Linked DNA regions of Homo sapiens: region 2 is linked to region 1. A link means that fine-mapping ties the variant in region 1 to the expression of a gene that starts in the linked region. Tissue or cell type: caudate. Region 1 holds a variant in brackets; the other region holds the start of a gene. All regions are shown on one strand. Distances are from middle to middle.

What was found. PIP is the estimated chance that this variant, and not a neighbour inherited with it, causes the effect.
Region 2: it holds the start of LRP1B, and the variant in region 1 is the best candidate, but not a certain one, in a credible set for the expression of LRP1B in caudate (GTEx, PIP 0.85).

What each region holds. Positions count from the first base shown.
Region 1 is chr2:142,187,642-142,192,040 of GRCh38, forward strand. No RefSeq gene overlaps it. Among named protein-coding and RNA genes, the nearest start is that of LRP1B, 59 kb to the left of the region's middle. The variant G/T (reference allele first, on the strand shown) is at 2,492.
Region 2 is chr2:142,128,501-142,132,899 of GRCh38, forward strand. LRP1B (LDL receptor related protein 1B) reads right to left here and starts at 2,516. Exons shown (of 91, transcript NM_018557.3): 1 at 2,148-2,516. The coding sequence starts at 2,229. RefSeq lists an enhancer at 2,384-3,583.

The DNA.
Region 1 (4,399 bases):
AGCTGTCTCTAATTATTACCTAAGTAGATAAAACTGAGCTCCTTCTGTGATCAAATATAAACTAGGAAAGGTAAAATTAGTTGTGTTACCCTACCCAGGATTACACAACCATAAAACAAACAACCAATTAACCAATTTATCATACATCAAATCAATTACCTGTGGGAGAGAATGATTAAGTGTTTCTACAAGAAAAATGTAAAATCATGAAATTATTGACTATTAGCTCTTGGCAAGAATTTATAATCATCATATAGTCAAGTGAATATAAAAACATGTTTTAGGCTGGGCACTATGGCTCATGCCTATAATCCCAGCACTTTGGGAGGCCAAGGTGGGCAGATCACCTGAGGTCAGGAGTACAAGACCCTGCCTGGCCAACAGCGTGAAACCCCGTCTCTACTAAAAACACAAAAATTAGCCTGGCATGGTGGTGGGCACCTGTAATCCCAGCTACTCGGGAGGCTGAGGCAGGAGAATTGCTTGAACGTAGGAGGTGGATGTTGCAGTGAGCCGAGATCATGCCATTGTACTCCAGCCTGGGTGACAGAGCGAGACTCCATCTCAAAATAAAACAAAACAAAACAAACAAACAAACAAACAGAAAACAACAACAAAACAACGTTTTAACACTGAATTATTTTTTCTTTTTTAATTAAATGTTCCTGTTACTGAATGATTGTTTGGTTGACTAAAAATGCTCCAATTTTCAAATTTATTTTCTTATTTTTGTATTATTACTCAAAGGTATATTGAACTGCCAAATAGATGGGTTTTAATCCCTCTTCTATACTCCTGTATCACCTGGGACATATGTCTGCTAAAGTCCTGAAGACACTTAATAATTTTTGGTTTACTTGCGTGTTTATCCACACAAGCTTTTTGAGCAAAGCTGTGTTTTCTACATCTCTGTATTCTTAGCATCTAGGTAATCTGGCCATCTATGTGCTCAATAAAAATTGAAATTGAAAATAAAATAAAATAGATGTTAAACACAATTATAGGAGGCCATTGTCTTGGACTGAGCTCTTGCACTGCGATCTTGCACCAGACCCCATCAGACCAGATCAAACCAAAATGGAGTCACTCATGCTAAATGTCACATAAGCAAACTGCAACTTTTAGGAAGCAAATAGATCCCAAACAGCACAGTTTTTCCTGAGAACAGCAGATTCCAGTCTACATGACTCAGCATCATAAGGAAGATCCCTCTGTTTTAACCCTTACCAAAAACTAACTCAAGTAACCTAGTGTTAACCAATCAACTATTTTCCTTTGTTCTGTTTCTTTCTCACCTTACAAAATCCACTCTTCTGTGATTTCCCAGTGAGAGTTCACATTCTGTTTTGTAGGATGTAGCTGTCTTGATTCATAAATTGCAAATAAAATCCAATTCGATCCATAACTAAATTTGTTATAATTTTATCTTTTAATATGAGGTTAGCACACATAATTCACTATAATTCCAAATTAAAACAAACATAATTACCATTTTAGTAAATTTAGGCATATATATATATATATATACACACACACAAACGTACACATGATTCCACTAGACTAATAGTCCTTAAATTATGCTGTGTATGAGGATTACCCATGGAGTTGAATAAACATATAAATTTCTAGTACTTGCTAAGGTATTCTGACTTAGTAAGACCAAAGTACAGCCAAAAAAGTTGAATTTTTTAAGGAAACATCTTAAGTTATCAATATATTAACCATGTTTAGGAAATACCACAGTAGACTTCTTAATATGTTGAAGTAGCTCATAGACGCACAGTGTTACTTTCACGAGAGCGTACCCCAATTGGGAGCCACTAATCTAAGCCAACCCAGAGATAAAGCAACCAGAATGAAAAGAGTTCCTAAAAAGTAAGAGGCAGAGTCCAATTTTAAAATCTGGTAGCAACACTTGAGTTCCTAGAGGATAAACCCAAAGATGCATACAATGAGTAATTCAACTTTAAGCCTCCCATTTTAAGATTATGAGAAGATCCTTATTTATACAAAGAATAAATGTCTTAGGTTAGATGGAAGAATGTCATTGCTGTGTAGAAGATGAAATATGTGTGGAAGAATGCATGTAGTCATTGAAAAGCAAATAAATGCACTGTGGTAGATATAGGTCCAAAACTGCCTTTCCTACACCTCTGGGGCCTGATGAACTTCAGAATTCAGAGTGTTTCAGATTTTAAAAAGGTACTATAATGCAAATACCTTTAGAAGAAAATGAACGTGGAACTGGCCTACAGTTTATTCCCTCTATCATTAAGGATGGAGGATTTGGGGAAATCATCAAGACAAAAAACTGTCAAATCTTCTTGTAAACATATGAATTATGAATGTCTTTGGTAACACGCTAATGGCATTTGTTTGTGTTAGAATAATCATTTATGCAATACTTTCACTATGATGAACCTGGTTGTCTACGATTGATTATGGTACATAAATCTAGAATATATAGATTTATTGGTAAAGTTCCCTGGAC[G/T]ATATCACATAAGCGATTTAGCTTATTTTACATTAGACATGTTTTATAATTTAAATGTATAACTGCACACATGTTTAAAGGATATGACAACCTAGGTCCAGAATATATAAAATGGTAAGAAAAGAAGTAAGTAGCTACATTGGAGCTCCCAGACAACTCTCTGATTTTCCTTTGCCTTGCATTCCTTCTATTATTGAAGTTATTAGTAAAGATTGGTGTCAGGTAAGATGATATTGGTTAAGATTTCCAGTGCATGTAAGTCTGATTTGACAATCTGATATTTGACATTCTGATACTTGGTGTAATTTCTACTGTATAGTTCATAACACCCTCAGAGGGTCAGGTCACCTTGTATTCAAATAACTTGATATTTATGCAGAGAATCATATAAATATTCACATGTAGTAGGATAAATGAAGATAAAACACAGCCTCACAATCAGCTCAGAAAGATTTTAATATCAAATTAGTGCATATCAGTGCAATTTACAAAGTAAGTTATTTTTAAAAAATCTTTTAGATTCAGAGTTGTTTTCTTTAACATTTTGGGGCAAGGGGTAAAAGTTTAAGGAACACTACTTGGCCTAGCTCTCTCAATCTCTCTATTACACTTTCCTTTTACTTTGCCCATATTCCCTTCTAGCTAACAGTTGTATGCAAACTTTCGAGTCAGAAGCAAAGCAGTGGCCTTATTCCTGTTGGTGACTGCAGCAAAGCAATGTCAGACAGAAGAGAGGGTTGGCATGCTTACACTCTGCATGCCAATGCAAGACATCAGCTCTAGGGGTTTGAAAGCCTGTGGCAGTGATATCTAAGCCAGCAGCAGTAGAGCTTCCTGACCTCTACATCACAGCTATGGCAGTATGACCTTGAAATTAGTAGTCCGGTTGTAACTCCCCTGATTCCAACTCCTCCAGCTCCTCTGATTTTTGAAACCCTTAATCAGTAAATCTCTCCCTGCTTGAATTCCAAGAGTGCTTTCTGTTTCCTGGTCTGAATCATGACTGATACAGCATTTGGTAGCAGTGATTTGAGAAATGCAGCTTTTCAAAACATTATATCCTGAGCATATGTATTTTATGACAATTTGTGATGCAGTTTGTTTGAATCTTAAGCGTAAATAGAGGTACCACTCTCCACCCAAGGAAAGCTATTGGCAGCATAAGTAGGTACAAATGTCTTTCTTTTCCTTACAATTCATTATCTTTTAACTTACTTTCATATGTGGATCATGCTGTGGGAAACAAATACGATCATTATCAGTAACAAATAAAATCTTCTTTATGAAAGAGATTTTTTTCCTATGCCTGGCAATTTTTTCTTATTATATGCTCTTCTGCTTATATAGTTGCATTTCCTTGGATAGCTTTAAGGTTACTATAAACAGATATCTCACTGATAATGACAATGGCAGCCTTGAAATTCCAAGCCATTTCTAGCAATTCATCTTGAAGCAGCATTTTAGTTCTCTTTTCGTTGATTATCTTCATGTTATACTATTAGGTCCAGGGGCTTAGTCATTTTTTTATTACTTTGACTAGAAAATAGACACTTAGATATTTGTAAAAAGTTCTATATTGTTGAATTATGGCAAGTACACTATCCACCCAAGCAATGCAAATTACAACCATGTGCACTGTTTCTTATTTTTGCAATGTTATAGGAGAGCTGACTTATTTTTCACCTACTAATGAATGGTACCCTCAAGGATCTGGAAACAGTTAACATATTTTTTTTTAATTTTAAAATACAAAACTTGAGGAAATAATAGGTACATGGTAGAGTGTTACATTTGTTAAAATTGAAGAACGGGTATAACCTAGTATAGTGGCTGTTTTCAAACTCCCTACTACCCTCCTACTCCTGGTAGAACTAGTCTTCTGGAAACATCTTGGAGAAAAAGACATAG
Region 2 (4,399 bases), 59 kb before region 1:
TAATGCAGTAACACTTTCTTTCTTAACTTTCAACAAGATTTCTCTCTTTAAAATTCCTTTTTCCAAATGGGGCCCATCCTTTTCACTTTTGGTAACTGTGAGAATTTTAGCTCTTTGCTAACAGTTTTGAAAGTGTGTTAAATATATAATAGTGGCAAAGTGCTGGTCTACAATTATTTTTACTTGTGCTATCTGATATAGTACTTCATGTGGACGTGGTGATACAACACGACACTATTTCATTTTTTAGAAAAAAACTAGCAATCGTTTACCATGTGCTCTGCTTCTATCTTAGATGTTCCTCTCCCTCATGAAACTAAATTGGCACCAAATATAATCCTCTTAGTTATTTAATATTCTATCTCAGAAGAAAGTTGTGGGGTCTGTATTTTTTATGTTCTATACAAAATTCTCTTCAGATATTTACTCCAATCATGGTAGCAGTAGTTCTATCCTCATAAATGTATACAAAAGCATTGAGAACTCAGCTTTAGATGAAGTCAAATTTCTGGAGATTGGAGACTCAATCAGGAAGAGCCCAATAGCAGTAGTCTGCCAGTACCATTATATTTTGCTAGCATACTGGGCTGAAAATCTCCATTCTGTTCATCTGCTCTGGTCCAACTTCAAACATTTTTCCTAAGAAAGGTTGAGAGCTGATTGTTCCAGATCAAAGACATCATCATTTCAAGGCGAGCTATGTGCTTCCATTTCATCAGTATAGTTTCCAACCATTCCACACCAACTTCAAGGCAAGTTGAGCAAGTTCAGAAGCTATGGTTAGGTGGCAATGATATGCTTAAAAGATTATCACCAATAAGTGTCAGATTTCCTAAAGGAACTCAGATTAGTCCCACCACTGGTAGAGGAAATAACACGTGTAGGTATGTTACAAAGGCTAGAATCTGGCTGCCAACAGCAGGTTGAATAGAAACACTGCAGTTCATTCCCCTGTTCTTTCCTATAATGAAGCAATATTTTTTGTCAATTCATAATCTGCTTCATGTAAATACAATAACTAAATCTCCCAATGCAACATTCTGCCTATTTGCTTGGCATTGGGATCTGGGTTTCTTTCTCTCTTTCTCTCTCTCTCTCTCTCTCTCTCTCTCTCTCTCTCTCTCTCTCTCTTATTTAAACTAAAAAGCTGAACTATACCAGTCAATATAAGCTCATTTTCTGATTTTAAAAAAATCTATGATACTTCTGATTTTACTTTAACCAGTTAACCATTCCAAGGCCAGGGCCAGTGCCCCAAATATTCATCTAGTATTTTCCTCCCTTTTTCACCAGTGCATCTGTTGTCAAAGATTATTAAACTCGCACAGGGATTCTTGATTTTCCAGATGAAAAGTTTATAGAATCCCGGCTTTTTCTAATTCCTACCTCCTTTCTCCTCTGCTCCCCATATCCATTCCCTTCTAAACTTCTACCATTCACCAGCTGCTTGGAGAAAAAGGAAAAGCAAAGCGCCAGACTGGAGAGAGGCACTCCAGGGGTGGGTTAGCCCCTCAGAGCACCTGGGCTGTGTCACAGACCCTCATAATCGAAAAGTCAATTTCAAGCAGGTGCGTGCGCCCGGAATCGTCCTAAAAGCCTCTCTGCTGATGACAGGACTCTGACCCCAGTCTGCCCCCAGGAAGGGGCTATAGAAACGAAAGGGGCCTGAATCGGCGCTTTCGCCGCTCCACGGACCTCGAATGCAGCAGGTAAGGAAGTTAACCTGGGAGCTAAGTTGAGGGCGGACACGCTTAACGCGGAGAACCTGGAGCTCGCAAAAGCTCGCAGTTGAGGGCCATCGCGGAGGGAAGTCTTTCGGAAATGCGAATTCTCATTCCAACATCTGCAGCGCTTAGAATTCGCGGACAGAAGCGCACAGCCAAGTGCACACACTCCCGGAGGGGACAAAATGGGGACCGGGAAACGGCCAAAGGGAAAAGCTGTGGGGGTGCCGAGGACTCAGGCACTTGGTTCAGAAATCCCGCACCGCACCTCTCACCCCCGCACAGGGCCAGCGCACGGTGGTCACCCGGTCCCGGGGAGCGGAGCTGCAAGGACTTAAGTTTCACACTCACTTATCTGCAAGCATCGCCCAGCAGGAAAGCCAAGGAAGTCAGGGGAGGGGAGCGGGGAGGTGTTCTCCTTACCTCGGTCGGCTCCCACGGTCAGCACCCTGGCAATCGGCAATAATCCCGAGAGAGTGAGTAAGGCGAGGAGAAACTCGGACATTGTGGTCGCCCGGTAAGGAAGCCTGCGCTGGAGACTGCTCGGCGGCACCTTCGGCCCGGCGGCGGCGGCGGCGGCAGGGGCCGCTTGGAGCCTGGAATCGAGCGGCGTCATTTACAAATGTCACTGGAAATTCTTCAGCTCAATGAGTCCAGCCAGTCAGCCTTCTCCTGCCTGGAGCAGGATGTGGAAGGTGGAGGGATGCGCGCGTGCGGGAGAGAGGAGGCAGAGCGTGTGTGAGCGCGAGCGAGACGCCCGTGTGTCTTGACTTTTCAATGCAGGGTACGTCTGATCTTACATCACGCAAGAGGGGCAGTGAGAGATGCCAGCGGATGGGAATTCACTGATTAATCACCGAATCCACCACACACCCCTTCGTCGTTCACATAAATCACATCTATTACTTAATAAGAGGCATTTAACACAACAGGAAAATACCACCGCGAACGGAGAGCGCCACAAATCACAATTATTTTAATCCCCTTGAAGGGAAAGTAACTCGAAGCTGGTTCTGTGGGGATTTGGGTCTTTGGAGAAGGGAGAGACTTCTGCATTGGCCTGAGCCAGCCAGGCGCCTACAATGCTCCGCAGTTCACAGCCAGCTGAGAACCCTCAGCCGAGCACAGGGCTGCTTCTGCAGGCAAAACAAAGCTTCTCCCTTCGTTCCTCGGAAGCTTCCTTCCCGGGAAGGAAGGACAAGCCAAGGAACAGAGCTTCTCTTAGGGAAATGGTTTCCTCGGCTCTACACAGAATCCCAGTACTTCCTGAATTGCACTTTTAACTTTTATGCTGAGCAGCACCTGGGGACAAAGAGGCAAAATTTAGTGACTCAGCAGAAACAGAAAGCAAAACAACCCCCAAAGTCATTAACCGTTGCGTAAGAAGGGAAGGTTAATGGAAAAGGCTATTGAGGTCCCCAGGCAGGGAACAATAAAGCAACGAATTGGCAGCGTTTTTCTCTGGGGTTCTGTCTTTAAAAGGGTACTTCGAGCCATTTTAAACAGGCTTTGAGGGTTTTGTTGTTTTTGTTTTGTGTTTTGTTTTGTTTTCCTTTTCCATATACTACAGGGGCGGTGTAAGAACTTTCCCGAGCCATCGGAGGCATCAACGGGAATCACTGGAATAATAATATTAGTAAAGTTGTTTTTATGACCACTTAAGTTTACAACATGATCATCCCAGTCCCTAAAATTTTAGTTTGCCATTACAAAGTGGCTACGGAATTAAAACTCAGAAATCTTAATAGTTGTAGACTTACTTTCTTCCTTGTAACATCAGGAATTCTCTTCTAAGAACAAGAGTTGAAAAGGTTTTATATTTAATATTTTGAAACTGGACATGAGTGGAGAGGAAAACTATGAGAAGGGAACAGAACTAAGGAAGAGAACGATTGAAAAGTGAAGGAAGATGCTTTAAAAGCTTTATTTACTTTGCTGTTTGAGACTTATAAGTGAATGCCAGCATTACTATCTACCTATTTATGAGAGTAAAATTATCCAGAAATATCTTTAGATGCTCCTTTGAAGCCATTAAAAACTGGACTAGATGAAAGAACACAGAGATGACTTTGCAGAACATTGTCAATAATCTGTGGATTTCACCTTTTTATTCTTACTCTGTGATTATAAATGTATTTTATGTCACTTTTTCCATGTTTTAAATTATAAAGTTTACTTTCCCTTGAAAATACAACCATTTTGTGTTTGAAATATGACTCCTACATTCAAAAGTGTATGCTTAATTTTTTTTTTTTTTTTTGAGACGGAGTCTCTCTCTGTTGCCCAGGCTGGATTGCAGTGGCGCGATCTCGGCCCACTGCAAGCTCCACCTCCCGGGTTCACGCCATTCTCCTGCCTCAGCCTCCGGAGTAGCTAGGACTACAGGCGCCCACGACCATGCCCGGCTAATTTTTTTGTACTTTTAGTAGAGAAGTGTATGCTTCTTTTCTTCTAAAGTTGTTACATGTCTAATTTTTCCTAGATGTTTTTATTATTTCATAATATAGTGTACAATATAGAATAAAAAGATTTTTTTACATATTTTACTTCATACTGAAAATTCACAAACTTTGAAATGAGTGGCAGAGTTTAAAGAATATGTGTGTGTGCGCGCGTGTGTGTGTGTGTGTGAGAGAGAGAGAGAGAGAGACAGAGAGAGATTTGAATGATGTGCC